Linked DNA regions of Homo sapiens. The protein of the gene in region 6 purifies or fractionates together with the protein of the main gene of each other region. This does not show direct contact. Each region holds a gene or a part of one and is shown on either strand. Other genes may lie near its edges. The genes, in order: TFCP2, COL6A2, PPP1R10, MAPK9, TRAPPC9, TAFA3 and DPYSL5.

What was found.
Region 1: the proteins of TAFA3 (region 6) and TFCP2 purify together in Homo sapiens (affinity purification with mass spectrometry; 2 studies listed by BioGRID and IntAct, with this or other methods). This does not show direct contact.
Region 2: the proteins of TAFA3 (region 6) and COL6A2 purify together in Homo sapiens (affinity purification with mass spectrometry; 2 studies listed by BioGRID and IntAct, with this or other methods). This does not show direct contact.
Region 3: the proteins of TAFA3 (region 6) and PPP1R10 purify together in Homo sapiens (affinity purification with mass spectrometry; 2 studies listed by BioGRID and IntAct, with this or other methods). This does not show direct contact.
Region 4: the proteins of TAFA3 (region 6) and MAPK9 purify together in Homo sapiens (affinity purification with mass spectrometry; 2 studies listed by BioGRID and IntAct, with this or other methods). This does not show direct contact.
Region 5: the proteins of TAFA3 (region 6) and TRAPPC9 purify together in Homo sapiens (affinity purification with mass spectrometry; 2 studies listed by BioGRID and IntAct, with this or other methods). This does not show direct contact.
Region 7: the proteins of TAFA3 (region 6) and DPYSL5 purify together in Homo sapiens (affinity purification with mass spectrometry; 2 studies listed by BioGRID and IntAct, with this or other methods). This does not show direct contact.

What each region holds. Positions count from the first base shown.
Region 1 is NC_000012.12:51,163,136-51,166,635, forward strand, and holds part of TFCP2 (alpha-globin transcription factor CP2), read right to left. Parts: intron 1-3,500.
Region 2 is NC_000021.9:46,104,612-46,108,111, reverse strand, and holds part of COL6A2 (collagen alpha-2(VI) chain isoform 2C2 precursor), read right to left. Parts: intron 1-3,500. UniProt on the Homo sapiens protein: Collagen VI acts as a cell-binding protein.
Region 3 is NC_000006.12:30,603,744-30,607,243, reverse strand, and holds part of PPP1R10 (serine/threonine-protein phosphatase 1 regulatory subunit 10), read left to right. Parts: intron 1-387; coding exon 388-465; intron 466-602; coding exon 603-776; intron 777-1,000; coding exon 1,001-1,106; intron 1,107-1,208; coding exon 1,209-1,321; intron 1,322-2,149; coding exon 2,150-2,250; intron 2,251-2,508; coding exon 2,509-2,656; intron 2,657-2,732; coding exon 2,733-2,891; intron 2,892-2,989; coding exon 2,990-3,236; intron 3,237-3,400; coding exon 3,401-3,464; intron 3,465-3,500.
Region 4 is NC_000005.10:180,233,084-180,236,583, forward strand, and holds the end of MAPK9 (mitogen-activated protein kinase 9), read right to left. Parts: intron 3,449-3,500; coding exon of another isoform or gene 3,444-3,448; coding exon 3,301-3,443; 3' UTR 60-3,300; downstream 1-59. UniProt on the Homo sapiens protein: Serine/threonine-protein kinase involved in various processes such as cell proliferation, differentiation, migration, transformation and programmed cell death.
Region 5 is NC_000008.11:140,370,745-140,374,244, forward strand, and holds part of TRAPPC9 (trafficking protein particle complex subunit 9), read right to left. Parts: intron 437-3,500; coding exon 220-436; intron 1-219. UniProt on the Homo sapiens protein: Functions as an activator of NF-kappa-B through increased phosphorylation of the IKK complex. May function in neuronal cells differentiation. May play a role in vesicular transport from endoplasmic reticulum to Golgi.
Region 6 is NC_000001.11:112,724,820-112,727,735, forward strand, and holds the end of TAFA3 (chemokine-like protein TAFA-3 isoform 1 precursor), read left to right. Parts: intron 1-1,809; coding exon 1,810-1,821; coding exon of another isoform or gene 1,822-1,861; 3' UTR 1,862-2,416; downstream 2,417-2,916. UniProt on the Homo sapiens protein: Plays a role in the regulation of microglia polarization.
Region 7 is NC_000002.12:26,942,132-26,945,631, reverse strand, and holds part of DPYSL5 (dihydropyrimidinase-related protein 5), read right to left. Parts: intron 3,090-3,500; coding exon 2,882-3,089; intron 977-2,881; coding exon 808-976; intron 1-807. UniProt on the Homo sapiens protein: Involved in the negative regulation of dendrite outgrowth.

The DNA.
Region 1 (3,500 bases), on a different chromosome or scaffold from region 6:
CAAAAAATACAAAAATTAGCTAGGCATGGTGGCACGAGCCTATGGTCCCAGCTACTTGGGAGACTGAGGTGGGAGGATTGCCTGAATCTGGAAAGTGAAAGCTGTGATGGTGCCACTGCACCCCAGCCTGGGCAACAGAGCAAGACCCTGTCTTAAAAAATAATAGTAATAAGGCCGGGCGCGGTGGCTCACGCCTATAATCCCAGCACTTTGGGAGGCCAAGGCGGACAGATCACCTGAAGTTGGGAGTTCAAGACCAGCCTGACCAATGTGGCAAAACCCTGTCTCTACTAAAAATACAAAAATTAGCTGGGTGTGGTGGTGTATGTCTGTAATCCCAGCTACTTGGGAGGCTGAGGCAGGAGAATCGCTTGAACTTGGGAGGCAGAGGTTGCAGTGAGCCAAGATCACGCCACTGTACTCCAGCCCAGGCAACAGAGCGAGACTCTGTCTCAAAAAATAAATAAATAAATAATAATAACAATAATAAAATATTAGAAAGAAGGCAGGGTATGGTGGCTCATGCCTTTAATCCCAACACTTTGGGAAGCTGAGGTGGGAGAATCGCTTGAGCCCATGAGCTCAAGACAAGCCTGGGCACCATAGTGAAACCCCCATCTCTACAAAAAATAAAAATAAAAACAGAGATAAAAAAAAGAAAGACCTTAAGTCAATACTCTAACTTCAGACCTTAAGGAACTAGAAAAAGAAGCACAAACTGGACCCAACCAAAGGGAGGGAATAACAATGTTTAGAGCAGAGATAAGTGAAATAAAGAATAAAAATAAGGCAGGTGCAGTACCTCACACCTGTAATCCCAGCGCTTTGGGAGGCTGAGGCAGGAGGATCGCTTGAGGCCAGGAGTTCAAGGCCTGGGCAAGACAGTGAGACCCCATCTCTATGAAATTAAAAAAAAAATTAGCTGGGTTTGGTGATGCATGCCTGTAGTCTCAGTTACTCAGGAGGCTGAGGTAGGAGGATCACTTGAGCCCAGCAGTTTGAGGTTGCAGTGCATATGATCACACCACTGCATCATTCCAGCCTGGGTAACAGAGCACGGCCCCATTTCTCAAAAACAAACAAACAACAACAACCACAAAAACCAAGAAGAATAAAAATAGTAGAATCAACGAAACCAAAAATTTGTTATTTAAAAAGATCAACAGAATTTACAAACTCTTGGCCGGGTATGGTGGCTCACGCCTGTAATCCCAGCACTTTGGGAGGCCGAGGCGGGCAGATCACAAGGTCAGGAGTTCAAGACCAGCCTGGTCAACATGGTAAAACCCTGTCTCTACTAAAAATACAAAAATTAGCTGGGCACGGTGGCAGGCACCTGTAATCCCAGCTACTGGAGAGGCTGAGGCAGGAGAATTGCTTGAACCTGGGAGGTGGAGGTTGCAGTGAGCTGAGATCATGCCACTGCACTCCAGCCTGGGTGACACAGCAAGACTCCATCTCGAAAAAAAAAAAAAAAAAGTAATTAACAAACTCTTGTCAGACTGACTGGGAGAAAAAGAAAGAAGATGAAATGAAAATAAATAAAATCAGAAATGAAGCTGGGGATATTACTACTAATTTTATATAAATGAAAGGATTATAAGAGAATACTGTGAATGACTAAACCAGCATATTAGATAATTTAGATAAAAGAGACAAATTTTTAGAAACATTAAAGTACCAAAACTGACTCAGAAAAAATTAAAAGTCTCAACAAACCTATAATAAGAGATTGAATTGATAAACAAAAACCTCCCAACAAAGAAAAGTCCAGTATCACATGGCTGCATTGGCAAATTCTACCAAATATTCAAAGAATTAACACCAATCCTACTCGAACTCCTTCAAAAAACAGAAAAGAATGGAACACTTCCTAACGTTCTATGAGGCCAACATCACCCTGACACCAAAGCCAGAAAAAGATACGATAAAATTCAGGCTGGGCATGGTGGCTCACACCTGTAATCCTAGCACTTTGGGAGGCTGAGGCAGGAAGATCCCTTGAGTCCAGGAGTTCAAGACCAGCCTGGGCAACATAGGGAGACTTGGTCTCTTAAAAAAAAGACATGATAAGAAAACTATAAACCAATATCCCATATGAATATAGAAATAAAAATCCTCAAGAAAATAACAGCAAACTGCAAACTGGATCCAACAGTACATTAAAAAGATTATATACCATGACCAACATTTATCCCAGGAATGCAAGAGTGGTTCAACATAAGGAAATCAATCAATGTGATACACCACATTATCATCTCAACAGACACAGAAAAGATATTTGAAAAAATTCAATACCCTTTTAAGATTAAAAAAAAAAACACTCAGCAAAAGTTCAAAGACATTATGCTAAGTGAATAAGTCAGTCACAAAAGGACAAATATATGATCCCACGTATATGAGGTTTTTAGAGTAGTCAAATTCATAGACACAGAAAGTAGAATGGTGGTTGCCAGAGGCTGGAGTGGGGGGAGATGGGAAGTTAGTGTTTAATAGGTACAGCATTTCACTTTGGGATGAAAAAGTTCTGAAGACAGATCATGGTGACAGTTGTACAACAACGTAAATGTACTTAATTACACTGATCTGGACATTTTTAAAGGGTTAAAATGATAGAATTTTATGTTATGTGTATTTTACCACAATAAACACACACATACACACATATTCAGCAAACTAGGAATAGAAGGAAACTTATTTAACACTAAAACGGCATTTATGAAAAACTCTGAGTAGGGCATGGTGGCACATGCCTGTAGTCCCAGCTACTCAGGAGGCTGAGGCAGGACTGCTTGATCCCCGGGAGTTCGAAGCTGCAGTGAGCCATGAACATGCCACTGCACTCCAGCCTGGGCAACAGAGTGAGACCCCATCTCAAACAAACAAACAAAGAAGTTGGCCAGGCATGGTGGCTCACATCTGTAATCCCAGCACTTTGGGAGGCCAAGGCAGGTGGATCACCTGAGGTCAGGAGTTTGAGACCAGCCTGGCTAACATGGTGAAACCCCGTCTCTACTAAAAATACAAAAATTAGCTGGGTGTGGTGGTATGTGCCTGTAATCCCAGCTACTTGGGAGGCTGAGGCAGGAGAATCGCTTGAAGCTGGGAGGCAGTTGCAGTGAGCTGAGACCATGCCATTGCACTCCAGCCTGGGCAACAAGATCGAAAACTCCATCTCAAAAAATAATAATAATAATAAATAATAAATAAATAAAAGTTAACATCTGTGAACAGCCTGGGCAACATAGCATGACCCTGCCTCAAAAGAAAAAAAAAGGAAAGAAAAAAAAGATGACATCTCTGACTGTGGGTCACTATATTAACAGATGCTTAAAGTTGTTTTTCAGGAATTAGGGGACAGCTCTTACCCAGTTGAGACCACCAATCCCTCAACTGGACCTGCATGAGTGCCCAAAAAGTGACCTTTTCATGTCAGAGGGACAAAAACTCCACACTTAGATCATGTTAACACTGCCATTTTCTGCACATGGCCTATGAAG
Region 2 (3,500 bases), on a different chromosome or scaffold from region 6:
AAAAATATATATATATATAGACAGAGAGAAAGAGAGAAAGAAAGAGAAAGGAGGGGAGATTAGGGAGAGAAAATTTAGTGAGCCACTTAGAAAAATATATCATTGATGAAAAGAGTCAAACTCTGTAAAATATTTTAAGAGATTTATTCTGAGCCAAATATGAGTGGCCATGACCCATGACACAGCCCTTAGGAGGTCCTGAGAACATGTACCCAAGGTGGCTGGGGTGCAGCTCGGTTTTATTCATTTTAGGGAGGCATGAGACATCAATCAAATACATTTAAGAAATACATTGGTTTAATCCAGAAAGGCAGGAAAATTCAAAGCGGGGAGAGATGGCTTCCAGGCTACAGGTAAATTTAAACATTTTCTGGTTGACAATTGGTTGAGTTTGTCTAAAGACCTGGGATCATAGAAAGGAAATGCTCAGGTTAAGATAAAAGACTGTGGAGACCAAGGTTCTTCTGAAGTCTCATAGTGGCTGCCCTTAGAGACAATCAATGACAAGTGTTTCCTACTGAGACCTTTAAAAGCTGCTAGACTCTCGGTTAATCTCTTCAGAATTGGGAGGGCCTGGAAGAAAAAGAGCTAGCTATGTTAACAGAGATTCCTTACAGATGCAAATTTTCCCCAGTAAAGGACAGCTTTGCAGGGCCATTTCAAAATGTGGCAAAGAAACATGTTTTGGGGTAAAATATTTTTATTTTCTTCTTGGTCGTGTAGTGTCATGCCAGAGTCAGATGGAAAGTAAGTCACAGCATATAGGGTTAGATAAAACCATCTGATGAGAATTTATGGTTTGTAGGGCATGACTCCCCAGACCCCTTAGATAAGAATATAGGCAAGATAAAAAAATCAGAGCTTAGTCCTCAACATACAAAAAGTTATTGATTTTCTTCTATCAGTTAGAAGAAACATTTTCTAACAACCAGTTAGAAAATGTTGCAGAAAAATGCTATTTACACTAGTAAGAAAAACAACATAAACCCAAGGAATCAACTGAATAAAAATGTGCAGGACTTATGAAAAAAACTCAAAAAAATTTTTGAGAAATATATTGGAAAGACAAACCTTGTTTTTGGATAAGAAATCATCCCACTATCTTAAACTGATTTAAAAATATCAGTTATTCCTAACTGAATCTATAATAGAATGCAATTTTAATTAAAGTTTCCAAGAAAATTTTTTGCATTTTTGTAGATAGGAGTTTGCAAAATGAATCCAAGTTTTACTTGGTAGAAAAAGCAAGAAGAGTTGAGCAAAATAAAAAATAGAGTGATGAGAAAGCTTGTGCTATCAAATGAAACGATAAAATTACAGTTTTGGTTTTGGTGCTGGAACAGGCCAACACTCCACACAACCATGGGCATAACAACACACGAGAACTTAGGCTATGACATGGTGGCCTTTCAGAGTGGTGGAAGCAGGCTGGGATGAGGGCTCACCCTGTGACTAGAAATAAAGGTACTACCTCACATGGTGCTCCCAAATAAACTCCAGGAAAAGGAAGTATCTGAGTGCAAAACAGGAACCAAAAAGTCTTTGAAGAAAACAGAATGTATAAAATGTCAATGAAAAATCTATAATAATTGTGTACCAGATACTGTCCTATATCCCTTCATTCAACATTCACAATTGGACTTATGGCCTTGGACATAGGTACTATTACCATCCCCACTCCAACAGATGAGGAAACCAAGGCCCAGTGAGGTAACTTGCCCAGGGCACTCAGCTAATAGCTGAGGTCTGAAGCCTGGCAGTGTGGGCTCAAGTCTGCCCTCTTGACACTGAGCTCCCACATATGACCATCATTACAACAAAAGCAATATGAGCAGACTGGAAGCAGACTGAGAGCCAGCAACAATCTTCCCAGTGTAAGATATAAATATTTTGATGGACTGTTATTAGGTGCATAAATATTTATAATTATTATATCTTGCTGTATTGAGCCTTTTATTAATATATGATGTCCTTCTTTCCCTCTTGTAACCTTTTTTGATTTAAAGCCTATCTTGTCTGGTATTAGTATAGCCACTCTTGCTCTCTTTTGGTTACTATTTGTGTGGCATGTCATTGCCCATCCTTTCACTGTCAATCTATTTATGTTTCTGGATCTAAAGTGCATCTCTTGTAGAGAGCATATAGTTGGATTTGGCTTTCTAAATCCATTCTGCCAATCTCTGTCTTTTAACAGAGAGAGTTTGGAGAGTTTAATCCATTTACATCTAAAGTAATTACTGATAAAGAGGGACTTCTTTCATTTTGCATTTTTTTTCTGTATACCTTATGGATTTTTTTGTCCTTAATTTCCAGTATCACTGTCTTGTGTTTAATTAATTTTTTTGATGGTGAAACATTTAAATCCCTTCCTCATTCCCTTTTGTATTTATTCTTTAGTTATTTTCTTTGTTGTTACCATGGGGATTGCATTTTAACATCCTAAAATTATAACAGTCTACACTGAATTTATACCAGTTTAGCTTCAATGGCATAAACAAAACTCTGCTCCCTGAATGGCTCTGTCCCCAACCCTTTTAGTTATTGATGTCACAAAATTACACCTTTATATATTATGTGTCCAAAAGCATAATGTTATTTTTAAATCAGTCTCTTAAATTATGTAGAAAACAAAAAGCAGCATTACACACCATTGTTACAGCAATATTAGCTTTTATAATTGTCTATATATTTACCTTTACTGAGATATTTATTTATTTATTTATTTTGAGATAAGGTCTTGCTCTGTTGCCCAGGCTGGAGTGCAGTGGTGTGGTGACAGCTCACTGCAGCTTCAACCTCCCAGGCCCAAATGATTCTCCCACCTCAGCCTCCCCAGTAGTTGGGACCACAGGTGTGCACCACCATGCTTGGTCGATTTTTAAAAATATTTTTATTTTATAGAGATAGGGTCTCCCTATATTGCTCAGGCTGGTCTTGAACTCCTGGGCTCAAGTTATCCTCCTGCCTCGGCCTCCCAAAGTGATGGGGTTACAAGCATGAGCCACTATGCCTGGCTGAGATCTTTACTTCTTCACTTGAATTACTGTCTATCACCCTTTATTTCAACCCGCAGGACTCCCTTTGGCGTTTCCTATAGGGCAGGTCTAGTGGTAAGGAACATTCTCAGCTTTTGTTGATCTAAGAATGTGTTAATTTCTCCCTTACTTTTAAAGGACAGTTTTGCTGGATGTGGGCTTCTTGGTAGACAGTTTTTATTCTTTTAGCACTTTGGATATATTGGCCCACTGCCTTGTGGCCTTCAAAGTTTCTGATCAGAAATCTGCTAATAGTTTTATTGAGGATTCCTTACATGTGATGAATCATTCTTTCTTGCTGTTTTCAAAATCTTTGTCTTTGGGTTTTGACAATTTGATTAGAATGTTTCAGTGTGGGTCTCTTTGAGTTCATCCTGCTTGGAGCTTTTTGGGCTTCTTGGATGGTTATATTCATGTCATTCATCATATTTTAGAAGTTTTCAGCCATTATTTCTTCAAATAGTC
Region 3 (3,500 bases), on a different chromosome or scaffold from region 6:
TGGATTTTGGTTACATGTATAAGTTCTTTAATGGTGATTTCTGAGATTTTGGTACACTCATCACCCAAGCAGTGTACACTGCACCCAACGTGTAGTCTTTTACTAATGTAGATTTTAACCACATATTCTGAAATATTAGGTCTTTTTACTCCAGAGTGGTGTGATGACATCAGAGTTGAAAGTTATCCAAGTAGAACACAACTCTAATTCATTGTTCCATTTTTTAAGGGTTTGGTTTTTAAGCATATCTCATGTTCTTCTTAAAACTTTGGGTTACTTTCTCCGTTACATAAATTTTCACAATATTTTCTCAAACCTCCCATTTTCTGTTCCTGGAAGAATGTTACTTTACATTATTTAGGCATTTCCCCTTTCTGTCACCTGCAGAGCTCCGGAAATTGGCCTCAGTCCTTGTCAGCGACTGGATGGCTGTCATCCGCTCTCAGAGCAGTACCCAGCCTGCTGGTAAGCTCCTTAGTCCTTTATCCTTTGTATTTATTTCTTTCCTATTGGGATGTGGCCTTTAGGTGCTCCCAGTCTGCTTCACCTCTGACAGTGTTCATCTAAATAAAATCCTTTTCTGCTTTGTTTTTTCACAACAGAGAAAGATAAGAAGAAACGTAAAGATGAAGGAAAAAGTCGAACTACCCTTCCTGAGCGACCTTTGACAGAGGTGAAGGCTGAGACCCGGGCTGAGGAGGCCCCAGAGAAGAAGAGGGAGAAGCCCAAGTCTCTTCGCACCACAGCACCCAGTCATGCCAAGTTCCGTTCCACTGGTAAGACTGGCGGCTGGCCTCTGGAGGGTTCATGGGCATGTGCACACCCAGAGCCTTATGGGGGAATCATTTGATGTGTGGTATGTTAATCGTAAGGAAGAGGGAAGACTAGCAGAGGAAGCTTTGGTTACAAGGCTAGAAGAACATTTGCGGGTGAGAACGGGAGGAAAATTCGGGGGTCTGGGGTTTGAGTTCAGCTGCCCACACCGTGCTTCTTTCCCCAGGACTAGAGCTGGAGACACCATCCTTGGTGCCTGTGAAGAAGAATGCCAGCACAGTGGTGGTTTCTGACAAGTACAACCTTAAACCCATCCCCCTCAAACGTCAGAGGTATGGACCATATTCTCAGGCTCTGAATGGGGTGGATCTGTGGACACAAGGGAGCAGGAGGGGGTGAGTCGGAGATGTTGATGACAGTTCCTCTTCTGACAGCAACGTAGCTGCTCCAGGAGATGCCACTCCCCCTGCAGAGAAGAAATACAAGCCACTCAACACAACACCTAATGCCACCAAAGAGATCAAAGTGAAGATCATCCCGCCACAGCGTGAGTCTAAAGTGGGGAAGATGTACTTTGAATTAGGAGCAAACTTTTTTTTTTTTTTTTTTGGAGACAGAGTCTCACTCTGTCACCCAGGCTGGAGTGCAGTGGCACGGTCTTGGCTCACTGCAAGCTCCGCCTCCCGGGTTCACGCCATTCTCCTGCCTCAGCCTCCCGAGTAGCTGGGACTACTGGTGCCCGCCACCACGCCCGGCTAATTTTTTGTATTTTTAGTAGAGATGGGGTTTCACCATGTTAGCCAGGATGGTCTTGATTTCCTGACCTCGTGATCCACCCACCTCAGCTTCCCAAAGTGCTGGGATTACAGGCATGAGCCACCGCACCTGGCCAGGAGCAAACTCTTATGGGAATGAATGTCCCTGGGAACGAGAAGTTTTTTCCCTTCTCTTTTATTATTTCCCTCCATTTTCCTTTGATTTCTTGGTATCCCTTACTTTTTGTACCTCTGGAACTCCCGTTTCAGGGGTCACTTAGGAGTAATTTTAGAGATAAGATAGGGACGTGTGCCATTCTGTGACTGGTCAGGGGCACCTGGTAAGGTGATCTGTCATGTTCACAAGGGCTCACTTCGTCAGCTACCTGAGCTATAATTCACATCCAAAGCTATGGCTTGCCTGCCATGAGAAACCTAGAATAACAACAAGAATATCCTGTGTGAATCCTCCTGCATGTGCTTCCTGGTCCTCTTGAGCTTATCGTGTCCTAAGTTGAGGCAGGGTCTTCACTGGCTCATTTTATGCCTGGACTGTGTTTGCAGGTGTAGGATTATGAAGGAGGTCTGATGATGCCATTTGGTGCTCTTTCTTTTTGTAGCTATGGAGGGCCTGGGCTTTCTGGATGCTCTTAATTCAGCCCCTGTTCCAGGCATCAAAATTAAGAAGAAAAAAAAAGTACTGTCACCTACGGCTGCCAAGGTATGGGCTCCCAGAAGTAGGTTTCAGTGACAGAGTATAAAAGGTAAAGTAGAAGAAAGGGCACAGCAGCTAGGAGTTGTCGGGGAGGACAACAAGAGGCGTTTTGCCTTGGATATAGACTGGTGCAGGTGAGACATTGTGGAGACAGAGTCTTCCTTTATATAGGAACTGTTGGGGGACTGTGCCTGGGACCCTGGACTAATTGCCTTGCCCTTGGCTTTCCAGTCAGTTCATTAACTTCCTTTTCTTTCACAATAGCCAAGCCCCTTTGAAGGGAAAACGAGCACAGAACCAAGCACAGCCAAACCTTCTTCCCCAGAACCAGCACCACCTTCTGAGGCAATGGACGCAGACCGTCCAGGCACCCCGGTTCCCCCTGTTGAAGTCCCGGAGCTCATGGATACAGGTAATCTAGAAACTGGTTCAGTTTGGGGGGTTTTCTGAAAGGAGGGATCTGGGTCTGAAACCTCTTCTGCTTCCAGCCTCTTTGGAGCCAGGAGCTCTGGATGCCAAGCCAGTGGAGAGTCCTGGAGATCCTAACCAACTGACCCGGAAAGGCAGGAAGAGGAAAAGTGTGACATGGCCTGAGGAAGGCAAACTGAGAGAATATTTCTATTTTGAATTGGATGAAACTGAACGAGGTAAGAGGTCATTTCCTACGTAATAGGTGTGTTTAAGGGATTTTGAAAGGACTTGGTTGTGCTTACTTTCCCTCTTGCTTTTCTTCCCCTGCCGACAGTAAATGTGAATAAGATCAAGGACTTTGGTGAGGCGGCTAAGCGAGAGATACTGTCAGACCGACATGCATTTGAGACAGCGCGGCGTCTGAGCCATGATAACATGGAGGAGAAGGTGCCCTGGGTGTGCCCCCGGCCCCTGGTTCTGCCCTCACCTCTTGTCACCCCTGGAAGCAATAGTCAGGAGCGATATATCCAGGCTGAGCGGGAGAAGGGAATCCTTCAGGAGCTCTTCCTGAACAAGGAGAGGTGAGCAGAGTGGGGTTCGTGCCCTGGGATGTTGAGTGCTTGGACACTCCTGAGGGAACATGAGCTGGGGTAATTACGGGGTGGAGGTTAGAAATTACTTTCAGGGTCTGAATTAATAACTTGACTATCATTCTTTTTTCTCTCACCTGTGTTGTTCCTGATAGTCCTCATGAGCCTGATCCTGAGCCCTACGAGCCCATACCCCCTAAACTCATCCCCCTAGATGAGGTAAGTCAATGTTCTGTGATGATGGAAGTTGTGATG
Region 4 (3,500 bases), on a different chromosome or scaffold from region 6:
TCATCTCTCTGGAATGCTTCTAGTCCTTTTAAGCAGAGAAAAGAAAGTGAGCCACTGAGTGTCCTTCCACTCCTGTGGTATTAAGTACTAAACAGCCTGAAGTGCTTCAAACACAGACGTCAGATGAACTTGGCTCATCCCAGGCACAAAGCCACAAGCACCATGAATGACGTTAAGTAACATGACTAAGGCTGACTGGTGAATTCTCCTGGCCACGCCTCATGAGAAAACAATTACACCAATACTCTGAATTGGACCTGCATATTGGTGAAGTCAAAACTTACTGCCATTAGTTTTGAAAACACAGATTTAGGAATTTGCAGAATATTTTCAATAAGAGAACAAACAGCAATGTTTCTGCCTCTCAGTGTGAAACCTCTTGCTAATATTGATCAAAAGCATGACACTTTATCATCTATCTGTGTTCATGTTAAATCTGTCATCAGAGATGGTGATGGAGAAATATCTAATTGCCATGTAAAAACACACAAAAATTGGACATGCTATACATTTATCTTTTAAAATGTAGTCTGTATTATTTTCACCAACCAAAACACACATAATATATTTTATTATAAAACATTAGCAATGTTACTTTTGAGATATGCAATCTGAAAGGTCACACTTGTATTTATTACCAGGAGGAAATACCAGAGGAGTCACATTAGAAATCAACCAGACAGACTCGTACGTGGTTATCGCTACTTACACAGCATTAAATGCGGGTTGAAGCAGCACCCGCTCCGTGTTTCAGACACGGACTTGGGGTGGGCAAGGGGCCCTGTAAGAGGGCTTCCTCCTCTCAGTACTGGGGCTCTGCGTCTCACCTGCTCCCATCTCCAGGCCCACGGCTGACACGGTATGCACAGCCAGGGTTTCCAGACTGCTCTCCTGCTCTCACAGAACTCTGTCTGCTCTCTGGACTCTGCCCTTGAAACTGAGACCTGGACATGGGGGAGACAGTCGTTTCCTTCTTGGCTGGAAACTAAGTCAACAAATGAAACAAACCTAGTCTAAATTCCAGGATAATAGTAAATTACCTGGTTTATAAAAATACATGTCCAAAATAGTTACTTCCTGGGTTGTGTACAATATAAATTACAAAAATAAAATAGAAAAGATGAAACAGTTGAGCACATTTTTCAGTTCTTTAACCAACATCAGCATTTATCCATAGAGATCAGTTTGAAACCATTTGCGTGGCACCAAGACCCTGGCAAATCTAGGCTCAGGAGAGAGAACCCTGAAGCTGGGGTGAGGTATTTCTGTGGAGCCCTGTGGCCTGTCCTAGGCACGCTCGCCTCTACCTGGTGGAAGATGGCCTTTCCAGGAAACCCTCCACACCGTCACGGGCTCCATCTGTGGCAAGTGGCTCGCTGAATGCACAGAGGAGCGAGTGAGCAGAAGGGCGTCTGCGGGTGCCTCGTCCCCCGTCCACGTCTCCCGGGGAGGGAGCATCACACAGTGCAGGGCAGCTCGCGCATTTTCAACCTCTCCCTTTTGTTTTTCCTTTTAAAGATAGATTTAGTGAAGTCTTTTAAAAGAAAGTGTATTACAGAGAAGGCCATTTTAAGATGTTTAGATAGATAGCCATAAAATAGGTGTTTCCGCCTCAATCCAAGTTATTATTACCATTTTGTACTTGAAAGTGTCCAAATGACACAATATAAAAGAACTATTTCTTATTTCAATATTAATTTTGCTAATCAAAGGTTCCAGTTTCCAGTGATATGACCAACCAATAAGATATAACTGGTGCAGAGAGAGCCATATATTTTACATAATATTTATAATAAACTTTCTTATCACAGTTCCTCCTCAGAACACACTCTACAGAATGTCGACTGAAAAGCTTCCAAAATAATTGAACACAAGATATGAATCAGCAACAGAATAAGCTCAAGGGAAGAGACATGGGCACAGGCAGGCAAAACGTGATCACCACAGCTCCGTTCCTGCAGTGACACTTAACATACTCAGCATCTTCATGAATTCTGAATAATTTACTGATCGTAAAGTCTAAAAGTATCAATTTCAGGTGAGCAGTTTTAAATCAGAAAATAGTCAATAGTTAATCATGACTCTTCAGGGTATTTCCTTCACGTCCTCTGAAGAGTTTCCCAGAACATTCTTGTGAAAAGGAATGCCTCCCAACAATGGAGAGCAACAATAGCAACAGGCATCTGAATCAGCCTGGCCTCTGAAAACAGACCAAAGAGGAGTTTATCTGCTTTCTTCCAGTGAAGAAAGAAAATCAAGAACGTGGTATTGGCCGAGGGAAAGTGAATGAGGGAAGGTAAATAAAGGACCCAGGCCAGTCTGTGGCAAAGGAAGCACTTAGGAAATGACTGCAGTGATCTCTAGTGAGCATTTTGTAAAATTCCACTCCAACGTTAGGCCATGGATGCAGGAACCTATCTGCCATCATATTTAATTAAGATGGAGTGTTACGCACCTAATAAAGAAGGTGAAGTTCTAGGTAGCATTTTAAATTCATAAGAAGTCTAGAAGACCAAGAAGAAAAGAGATAAGGTAGCTAGGATTTCAAGCAGCACTAAGCAAAACTTAAAATTGTATCGTGCAGTAAAGCTGAATGTACAATCATCCCAGACAAGACAGTTTAAAGAAAACAAGATGTCCACATAAGTGTCTTGGTTTTAGCCGTGATAATTCTCAGCCCCAAACATCACAAATCTAAGAAAAGCTATATATTTTTATTTATTAAATAGATTTAATTATATGTCTTCTGAAATACAAAAGATAGAATAAATCATAGCATAAAAGGGAATAAGATATGATAACATCATGATGGCCAATTAATACACATAAATCGACTTTTTCTGGACAGACACCAAATTACTTAAGAGGATTAAGAGATAACTTCAGAAGCAGCACTACCTGGAAGATTATTTGGCATTTAAATACTGATTTCCAAAGTGCTAGATGGGCAAGTCCAAGCAAGCATTTGTGGTCACATGCACATACATCTCAACAGTTACAGATGATGAGAAACTGTCACTAGTACAATTTGAAACAAATTCACCTACTCTAACTGCTCACCTGAAATGATCTTGAACAAAATCTCTAGAAGTGTGGCTTGCAATTTTTTTCTTCAGACATATTCTGCCTCATTTTATCATCTAAGCAGGCAATCCTATCAGGTCTGAGTAGGGCAAGGCATTGTGTTTCTTACATGCAGAACATGGAGTTTTTCTATTTGGTTCCATCAACTCCCAAGCATTTCAGGCCCACGGAGGTGAGAGTTCCTTCAATGCTGACAGGTTTGCTATTTCTAACCTATCATCGACAGCCTTCAAGGGGTCCCGTCGAGGCATCAAGACTGCTGTCTGTGTCTGAGGCCAGCGTCTGCTCAGTGGACATGGATGAAATGTCATTGATCGATGAAGACTGAGAAGGAGTGGCGTTGCTACTTACTGCTGCATCTGTGCTAAGAAAACCAAATATAATAAAATCTGAGGCACGACATTGCTGCAAATCCA
Region 5 (3,500 bases), on a different chromosome or scaffold from region 6:
CCACTGATAAAGATTCAAGAATCCGAGCCCCAAGGCAAAGCACCAGTACTTTTTCCTATAATCGGATTACAGCAGGCACCCAACTCCAGGGCAGGGATCTAGTCATTCTGGAGCCACCAGCACCAACCACGATGTCTGCCACTCAGGGCAGGGGCTGAAACAGCATGTGACCATCAGACAGAAAGCAACACCTTAGCGCCAGCAAGGGGACTCCAGTACCTCTGCTGAAATCTTTGGGATCCAGCGACAGACTGTAGCCGGGCAGCGTTTCCAGGAGGAGTTTGTAGCAGGCCCTCCACCCAGGCTCCGCGATGCTTGGGGCCACGCACTGCATGGCGGCCACGCGCTTGAAGAACGCAGACTTGCGATGGAAGCCGATCAGCTCATAGAGCTCGGAGAGGATGCTGTAGCGCTGAATTTTCTCTTCCTCAGAAAGCTGAAGCACAGAGAGAAAGTAAAAAGCTTTTGAAAGAAACGTATAAGTGAAAAAAGAAGCACACATTAAAAATGTCTCTTCATAAAACAAAGACCTGAGGAGAATCGAGGAGAATCAAGGAGAGGGAAAGCCTGGTGAGCAGCGCATGGCGCAGGCCCCAGGTGGCTTCAGACCTTCCCCAGCCACAGCTGCAGGTGCAGCCCATCTTCCTGCTGATAAAGCCCAGATTCTCTGCTACAAAGGTACCTGCTACAAATCTGAGACCTCTACTTTAAGTTCCTTCACAAAAGAAAAGAAAAGGAACAAGAGTTCATCTACACAACAGGATTTTATCAAGGTCTCTCATCAAACACAAAAATTCTTAAAACACAAGAAGACACAGAATCATGTAACTGGGTAATGAATTATTAACAATACCACTGATATCAGACTTAAGACTTCAGGGTTTACAAAAGTTTTCTTTCATCCAAGACCCAACTGAATCCTCCCAACAACCCTGTAGTGTAGCAATCATAACTTCTGTTTCTTTTCTTTTTTTTTTGAGACGGAGTCTCACTCTGTCACTCAGGCTGGAGTGCAGTGGTACGATCTTGGCTCACTGCAACCTCCACCTCCCGGGTTCAAGAGATTCTCCTGCCTCATCCTCCAGTGTAGCTGAGATTACAAGCACCCACCCCCATGCTGGCTAATTTTTGTACTTTCAGTAGAGACGGGATTTCACCATGTTAACCAGGCTGGTCTCGAACTCCTGACCTCAGGTGATCTGCCTGCCTCAGTCTCCCAAAGTGCTGGGATTACAGGTGTGAGCCACCACGCCCAGCCAACAACTTCTGTTTCTTCAGCACCTACTGTATGGCAGCAGACTTAACGTACCTGATTTACTCAATACAAGCATCCTGTGAGCTGGCAAATAAGGACATTAACAGCTCAGGGACACATTAATCACCTGTGCAAAATCACACAGCCAAGAAGTATCAGGGACAAGACCTGACTCTGGGCCTGGGCCCTGCCCACTGCACAGCGCCTTCAGAGAAGAAGGAAGGCAGAGCCCACTCTGCTGCTCCAGGAGCACTGTTAAGGAAGCGCTTCTCTCCCTCCTCTGCCCTGGACGATGAATGTTTCCCTGATGTTTCTGTGAGTACAGAGCCTTAGCTTGAACGCCCTTCCAACTTGGGCCTCCAAACCCTCCCTCCATCCCCTCTCCTCCGCGCTCACTGCCATGGCCTCGATGGGGCCCTCGTCAGCCCTCATCTGGAAGAGGAATCGGCATTGTCTTCCTACCACCTCTCGACCTTCCTTCACCTGTCCACACACCCCTGCCAGACTTAGGTTCCTGAGACATGGCTCAGAGCCCATCACCCGAGCCACGGTTTGAATGTTTGTGCCTCCCCAAAATTCACATGTTGAAAGCCTAGCCCCCAAGGTGATGGAATTAGGAGGTGGGGACTTTAAAAAGTGATTGGGTCAGGGGGTGAAGCACTCACAAATGGAATTAGTGCCCTTATAAGAAGAGACCCTAAAGAGCTAGCTCACCTGTTGCACCATGTGAGAACACAGAGAAAAGACGGCGGTCTATGAACAAGCAAGTGGGCCCTCCCCAGACACCAAACATGCTGGCACCTGGATCATGGACTTCTAGCCTCTAGAACTGTGCACAATACATTTCTATTGTTTATCAGCCACCCAGTCTGTGGCATTTTGTGACAGCAGCCTCACCGGACTAAGACAATCCCCATCTTGAAACCACTAGACCCCTTCAGGACTGTAAAATGGAGCCCAAATGCCTTCACGGGCATGCCAGGCCCTCCTCAGCCCCAACCTGCTCTGGAAATTCGAGGCCCCACTGCCTACCTATGACCTCACCAGACTGAACAACTTTAACTCATTTGTTTTCTCATTCTGTCAACACATATTTACTGAACCCCTACTCTGGTGCCAGCCACTCTTGTGGCAGAGGATACAGCAGTGAGCAAAACAAGCTAAGACTCCTACCCCTGGGGGCCTCCATGCTAATGACAGGCTAGTCCCCTGGCTTAGAATCAGTGGGGAGGATGACAATAAATCAATGAAAAAATAAACAAAATAGCTGCTCTAAGTCCAATGAAATACTCTTTGACATAGAATCATGGGTGGAAGCGTATGAGGCAGGCTGTACTAGGTGACGCCGCCGGGGCACACAGGCTCTCTGCTCCTGCAATGCCTCCACAGCCACATCTGGCTCTCCCTTTGGACACTCGGTTCCAATGCCACCCTCTCCAAGAAGCTGGTCCTCATGCCCTTCAGCGGGAAGCTGCTGCTTCTTTCCCTAAATTCTCCTAACCATGCTGGACTCCATAATGTCCTTTCTCTGTGTCTCCCACACAATTTACCTACATATCGGATCTCTGCCAGCCCCACTTTTCCTACAGTGAAAGGTCATGCCGACGCCGACGATGTGTGAGAATCCCTGTTGCTCCACCTGCTCACCAGCATATGAGGATATCACCTGCTCACCAGCATATGAGGATATCACCTGCTCACCAGCATATGAGGATATCAGTCTTTTTTATTTTAGACGTTGTGGTGGCTTTAACTTCCATTTCCCTGAAAACTAATGATGTTGAACCTTTTTCATATGATCACTGGCCACTGGTATATCTTCCTTTGTGAAGCGCTTGTTCAAATCTTCTGACAGTTTTTAAAATTAGATCGTTTGTTTTATTACTGAGTCGTACGAGTTCTGTATATATTCTGAATGCAAGTCCTTAGTTATATGTGTTTTGCAAATATTTCCTCCCGGTCTGTTGCCGATTTATTTCCCTAAGGGAGTGTTCATAAGCAAAAGCATTTCTCTGTGATGTAGCTCAATCTATCAGCTTTTTCTTCTATGGTTAGTGCCTTCTATGTCCTCATCTGAGAAAAATCTTTGCCCGAGGTCACAAAGATATCCTATGTTTTCATCTAGAAGTTGTTGTCTAGGTCTATGGTCCGTGAATATTCAAATTTGAGTAGGACATGGCCTGTCCCTTTCCAGGAGTGTGCAGTACAGCAGCGAACAGAAGCCCCAGTGCTGGAGGACAGCAGC
Region 6 (2,916 bases):
AAAAAAAAAAAAAAAAAAAAAGAGCTTAAAACAGAACTACCATTCAACCCAGCCATCCTATTACTGGTATATACCCAAAGGAAAATAAATCATTTTGCCAAAAAGACACATGCACTTGTATGTTCATCAAAGCAGTATTCATAATAGCAAGGGCATATAATCAGTCTAGGTGCCAATCAACATTGAATAGGATAAAGAAAATGTGGCACTTATATACCATAGAATACTACACAGCCATAAAAAAAATAATGTTTTCTGTAACACCCTGGTTGCAGCTGAAGGCCATGATCCTAAGGGACTTAGCATGGCAACGGAAAATCAAATACCACATGTTCTCACTTCTGAGAGCTAAACATTGGGTACACATGGACATAAAGATGGGAACAGTGGACGATGGTGACTACCAGAGCAGTGAGAGAGGGAGGGGAGCAAGGGCTGAAAAACTACCTATTGGGTCCTATGCTTACTACATGGGTAATGAGATCAATGGCACTCCAAACCTCAGTGTCATGCAATATACTCATGTAACAAACCTGCACATGTAATCCCTGAATCTAAAATAAAAGTTGAAATATTAAAAAAAAAAAAAAAAAAAACATAGTCGAGAATGGGAAAAATTATAAGATAATTGAGGGAGGAATTGCTACTTCTACCTGAGCTCCAGGTACAGTAGTCACTCTGTCACTCACCTCTGCCGTGACCATCCCCCACCCCCACCCCATTCCCACTGTTGTTGACTCCCTACAGTTCATACCTACCCTCCTCTAGTCAGATTTCTCTGTCCACTGTCACAGCACCCAAGAGGATTATTATTTTCATGGTTTGCTGCCTGCTCCACAGAACAAGGGGTAATTAAATTTTTTATCAAACTCGTTAGCAGCTCCATGTGTGTCATGGCTAATCAGCCGCATTGCTCTGCCGTCACCATTGGTACAGAAGAGTGACACTGCAGGGCAAGCCAGGGTTCTGCCTTTGGCTTTCCTTCCCTCCCACCACACACAGCAAACAAGCAAACACATAAGAAAATAGAGAAGGAGGGCTGGGTGCGGTGGCTCATGCCTGTAATCCCAGCACTTTGGGAGACAGAGGTGGGTGAATCAAGAGGTCAGGAGTTCAAGACCAACCTGGTCAACATGGTGAAAACCCGTCTCTACTAAAAATACAAAAATTAGCTGGGCATAATGGCACACGCCTGTAATCCCAGCTACTTGGGAGGCTGAGGCAGGAGAATTGCTTGAACCTAGGAGGCAGAAGTTGCGGTAAGCAGAGATCATGCCACTGCACTCCAGTCTGGGCGACAGAGTGAGACTCCATCTCAAAAAAAGAAAAAAAGAAAAAAAAATAGAGAAGGAAAGGCAGCCTTTGGCTTCTGAAGAGAGCAACCATTTTCACAGAGCACACAACAAAAGGAGCTACAGCAAGAAAAAGTTTGGCTCTAAAGTAGAGCATCCTCTCTCTATCCGGAGGCAGGGATGAGGGACAGCCATTCTGAGTATATTTAAGATCAGAAGAGAATGAGACCCACTACAGAGCTTGTGACATTTGTCACCATGTTATAGGTTTGGGTTTGTGGCCTGTAAGGAAGTGCTTGCAATTTGGGTAGCTACTCTGAAGCAAACAGTGGGGAGGCTTGTCTGACGTATGTTTGCATGGGTCACCAGGCCATGCTTTCCCATTCCGGCCTGCTTTAGGGTGAGAGGATTGGCAGCAATGTCCTCTAAGTGACCTGCATATTCTGGGTAGTCTCTGGCATGCTGGAATGGAATAGGCATTCCCTTCTCTAACCTTACCCTCTCGCTTCTTCACCAGGTCACACGATAGCTCTTGGGGGTCACGGCCTGGACAAGAAAGGCTTGACTGAGCCGTGAACTGAAGAATGGTATCCAGTCATCAGCCAGGAAAGATGGGGATTCACTTACATGCCTCATGTCAAATGCAGCATCAGTCTTTCCGGGGCATTTCAGTTAAGCTGCTCAGCAGATATGGATGGATCTGCAATCACATACCTAATGTGGAGCTGGGCTTTTCTGGAGACACGAAGGTCAACACACAATTCCTGCCCTTAAGGAATGTCCAGTTGAATTGGAGAGTTGATGACAGACAATTTAGATAATTTAGGTTAAAGTACTTGATACCAGACTGCGGCTTCTGGGCCACATGCTATGGCATGATGGGGGTTTGGGAATGAGATTCCCACAGTTCTTCAGATACCCTGTGGCCACAGGGCATAGAAACAAGAGGTCACATTCAGCACCCACCACCTCCCTCTTTCGCATCAGTTCTGAATCCCCAGCAAGCTGTTAACATGTTGCAGGAAAACACTCTCCCCTTATGCCAGACCAGCAGTATCTCATTTGGATGGGATTGGATTGACTTGCGGAAGGAAAGTAAAAATAAAGCCAAATAACTTCCCAAATCTTTGGCACAGGTATGGGCCATTCATTGGGTATGGGATGGACAGGACTTTAAAATCATCTCCATCCAAGCACCTCAGGTTTTTGTTTGTTTGCTTATTTTAACAGATGAGGAAGCAGCTCCAGAGAGGTGAGGCAGTTTGCCCAAGATCTCATAGCCTGGGCTCCCAGACCTCTAAGACTGATGACTTTCCACTAGCCTGAATAATAGGATTCCAACGTAGGCCTCCCATGTTAATTTTATGTCAAGTTACTGGAACCAGCAAAGTACAGGCTGGACAGCAGCAACATTTTTCTTGGGAGATGCTAGAGCAGAGACTTTTACTAAGGTCACTGTTCTCCTGTCTGAAATAATCCAGAATATCCACACACCGGGATGTGGGACCATCTGGTCTCCACTCTACTCTCATCCTCCAAATTTCAAGCAGGCCTTATGACACCCAGAGGTCACTCAACTCAGTTACAGCTGGGGCTCAGCTGGCATCTCCATTGCCCACTCTGA
Region 7 (3,500 bases), on a different chromosome or scaffold from region 6:
GGTGACAGTTCCCACCTAAGCCACCTGGAGGCCCGAGGCATCTTACAGCCTCTGCTTGTTCTCCACTGAGGATCATCATTTATGAGCCCGTGGCTCGCATGGTGATGGGTGCGGGGGGGGACGGGGGGGCGGGAAACTGCAGATCGTGGCTTTAAGAACTGGGATCGCACCCCCCAAGGAACCCAGAGATTCCACAGAAGGACTGGGGCCAGGACCCAAAGGACAGAAAGATAAGAGAAAAAACTGGGCATCAGAAGTCGAGAGAAAATATTTTACTTAAAGTTAATAAAATATATACAATACAATTCCTGGTAAAAAAAAAAAAAAGAAGGTGAAGGTGAGGCAAAGGCGGGGAAAGGTGTGGGAAGGTCAGAGGAGGAGAGGGGGTAGCAGAAGGAGTAGAGAGGCTGGTGAGGAGTGGGCTGGGGTGGGCGAAGGGCTGGTCGGTGCAGTCCCGTGAACCACAGACAGGGCTGACTCTTCTGAGCTCAGGGCATCTCTGGAGCACCCACTGTGTGCACAGCCCTCAAGATGTTTCAAGGGACAAAAATATCTGAACTTAGAAACCCCGAGCAGAGCCCCAGGTGGGCCATGGCCTATTAGAGCGTCTGTGCCCAGGGACCAGGACAGCCCTCCTGTCCCCACTAATGTCTATGTGAGTCTAATATCCAAACCAGCACTCATCCCTGGAAATAGGCAACGGGAGGGAGGAGAGGACACAAAAGAAAAGCAGGCGTAAGTCCCACTGCCTAGGTGGGCCACTTCTCCCAGACCCCCATCCTCCTCCCGTGGCCCCCTGACTCTTACCAGAGAGGCTGAAGCTGGATTCGTGAAGGTCCCTCATGCCCCCATGCCGGGTGACGGGCCGGGTAGGAGTGTCTGCGAGTGGGGTTCCCATCTCTTTTTTCCCAGGGTGCACGACAACAGCGACATCCCCCAGGTAGGGAGTGCGGTCCACTCCTCTAACCTTTAAAGTCTAGGGAAGGATGGAAGAAGAGCAGAAGAACAGGACAACACCATCAGAGCTGAGTGATACAACCATGGCCTCCCTGGGGGCCGGTGGGACATTAGACACTGCCACTCTGCCCAAGACCCAAATCACTGCAAGTGACCAAGGCTTCTTAAACATTGAGTCCAGGGGCTGGAGTTTTCTCATACCTCCTAAAGAGCATGTGCATATGTGTACATGTGTGCATGCGTGCATGTATGTGAGTGCACATGTGTGTGTGCATGCATGTGTATGGGAGAGATACTGGCTCCCCCTCAACACTGATGGAAGCCTCACCGAGGTAGCAGGTAGACATCTGAGGAAGTCAACTTTAACCAAATTTTTCTTTTCTTTTTTTTGAGACAGAGTCTCACTCTGTCGCCCATGCTGGAGTGCAGTGGTGCGATCTTGGCTCACTGCAACCTCCGCCCCCGCAAAGTGATTCTCCTGCCTCAGCCTCCCAAGTAGCTAGGATTACAGGCGCCTGCCACCGTGCCTGACTAATTTTTGTATTTTTAATAGAGACGGGGTTTCACCATCTTGGCCAGCTGGTCTTGAACTCCTGACCTCGTGATCCACCCGCCTCGGCCTCCCAAAGTTCCGGGATTACAGGCGTGAGCCACCATGCCCAACCGGAAGTCAATTTTAGAGAGCGCCCTCCCACACAGCGCAACGTTATTCCCCACCTTAGGCTCCCACGAAGCCACACCCTTTACTGGTCTGACAACTCTGAGGGAACAGAGGCTAAACACAGCCCCATCTGGAGATGAGAGGCCCCCAGTAGCAATACTAGCTAATTCTGTACTCACAAAGGCAGTAGAGTTAGGAGTCTATATTCTACAACCAGACTGCCTAGGTTCCAATCCCAACTCTGTCACTTGTAAACTGTGTGGCTTTGTGCAAGTTACTTTTCTGTGCCCATAATACTATACCTACATCAGAGAGTTGCAGGAGAGCAGACGAATTAATATGTGTAAAGCTGTTCCAACTGCTCTGGCACATGAGAGGCAACACAGAAGTACGAGCAGTTATTACTGCAGAGGTCATTTATGGTCCTACATCGTATTAAAAAGTGTTATTGGGCCGCGCACAGTGGCTCACGCCTGTAATCCCAGCACTTTAGGAGGCCGAGGCAGACGGATCACTTGAGCCCAGGAATTTGAAAGCAACCCGAGCAACACGGTTAAACCCCGTCCATCTCCACAAAAAAGTAAACATTAGCTGAGTGTGATGAGTAAGAGACCCTGAGTTTGCTTTTGGATTTAGCCCTGCGATCACGAAAGTCACGCTTTCTTCATTCAGGCAGCCCAAGCCTGCGCTCCCACGGCAGACCTGGCAGTGGATTTCTTCACTCATTGGCCTCTGGGAGAGAAGGGTCCTTGGTTTCTCTGAAAGCTCTGAGCCCTCTCGTGTGCTCTGTGTGCCAGCAGTGTGGGCCTCCCGTGTTCAGGTGCCTGCTCCTCCTGTGCTTCAGACAATGCTTTGCAAATGCCAGCTCTACCCCCCGCTTGCTTCATCAAGAGTGGGAGGGAGCCGAGCCAAAGCAGCATCTCCAGCCCCCAGCACCTCCTCCACCCCAAGCCTGCGTATCCAGAGGAGCTCAGCGGTCGCACACACTCACATTTCCCACTTGTGCCCTCAGCAACTCAGGAGCCCTGCTGCCTGACCACTTAAAATGCCACTTGGTAATCAAAGACGGGGAACAGAAATCAGCATTTTCTGACTCTAGCGTTCCCTGGCGCTGCCGCACACTCCCCTCTCAACGCTGGAGAAAGTGCAATGGAATTGGGTCGAAAACTGGAGTGAACATCTCTTTGAGATTTAAAACAGTCATGGAGGATGTTCCCCGGCAGGGGGCGCCAACACCCCTGCATCTTCCTCCTCCCACCTCACCTTCTCTCTCTGGACCAGCTTCTTGTAGACAGTGTCTGGGAAGGACCTCAGGGGACAGAACTTGCCGGTGCCCTCGGCGCACATGAAGACGCCGTTCTCATACACGACGCGCCCCCGGCTGATGGTGACCAGTGGCACGCCGTGGCAGCGCATGTTCTCATACAGGTTGAAGTCTCCTCCCTGGACCTGCGTGCTGGCTGAGATGGTCCTGGTGGGGAGGCAATGGCGGGAGAGAAAGCGCTGAGGACAGGTCAAAATGTCACAGCTCCATGGGAGGGGTGAGCCCCAAAGGCTGGTTGTTATGGGTTGAATTGGCTCCCTTCAAAATTCTTCTGCTGAAGTTCTAACACCCAGAACCTCAGAACATGGCACTATTTAGGGCCTTTAATGTAATCATTAAGATAAAGTGAGGTCATATAGGTGGGCCCTAATCCAGTCTTATCGGTGTCCTTATAAGAAGAGGAGACAGACACACCAGACATGTGTGACACGGAAGAAAGACTGTGTGAAGATGGAGGGAGAAGATGGCCAACGGTAGGCCAGGGCCATATTTTGTGCTAGAAATAGTGCAAAATTATATGCTTTTGGAGATCTGTAATGCAAGTCTTCTTCAAAATCC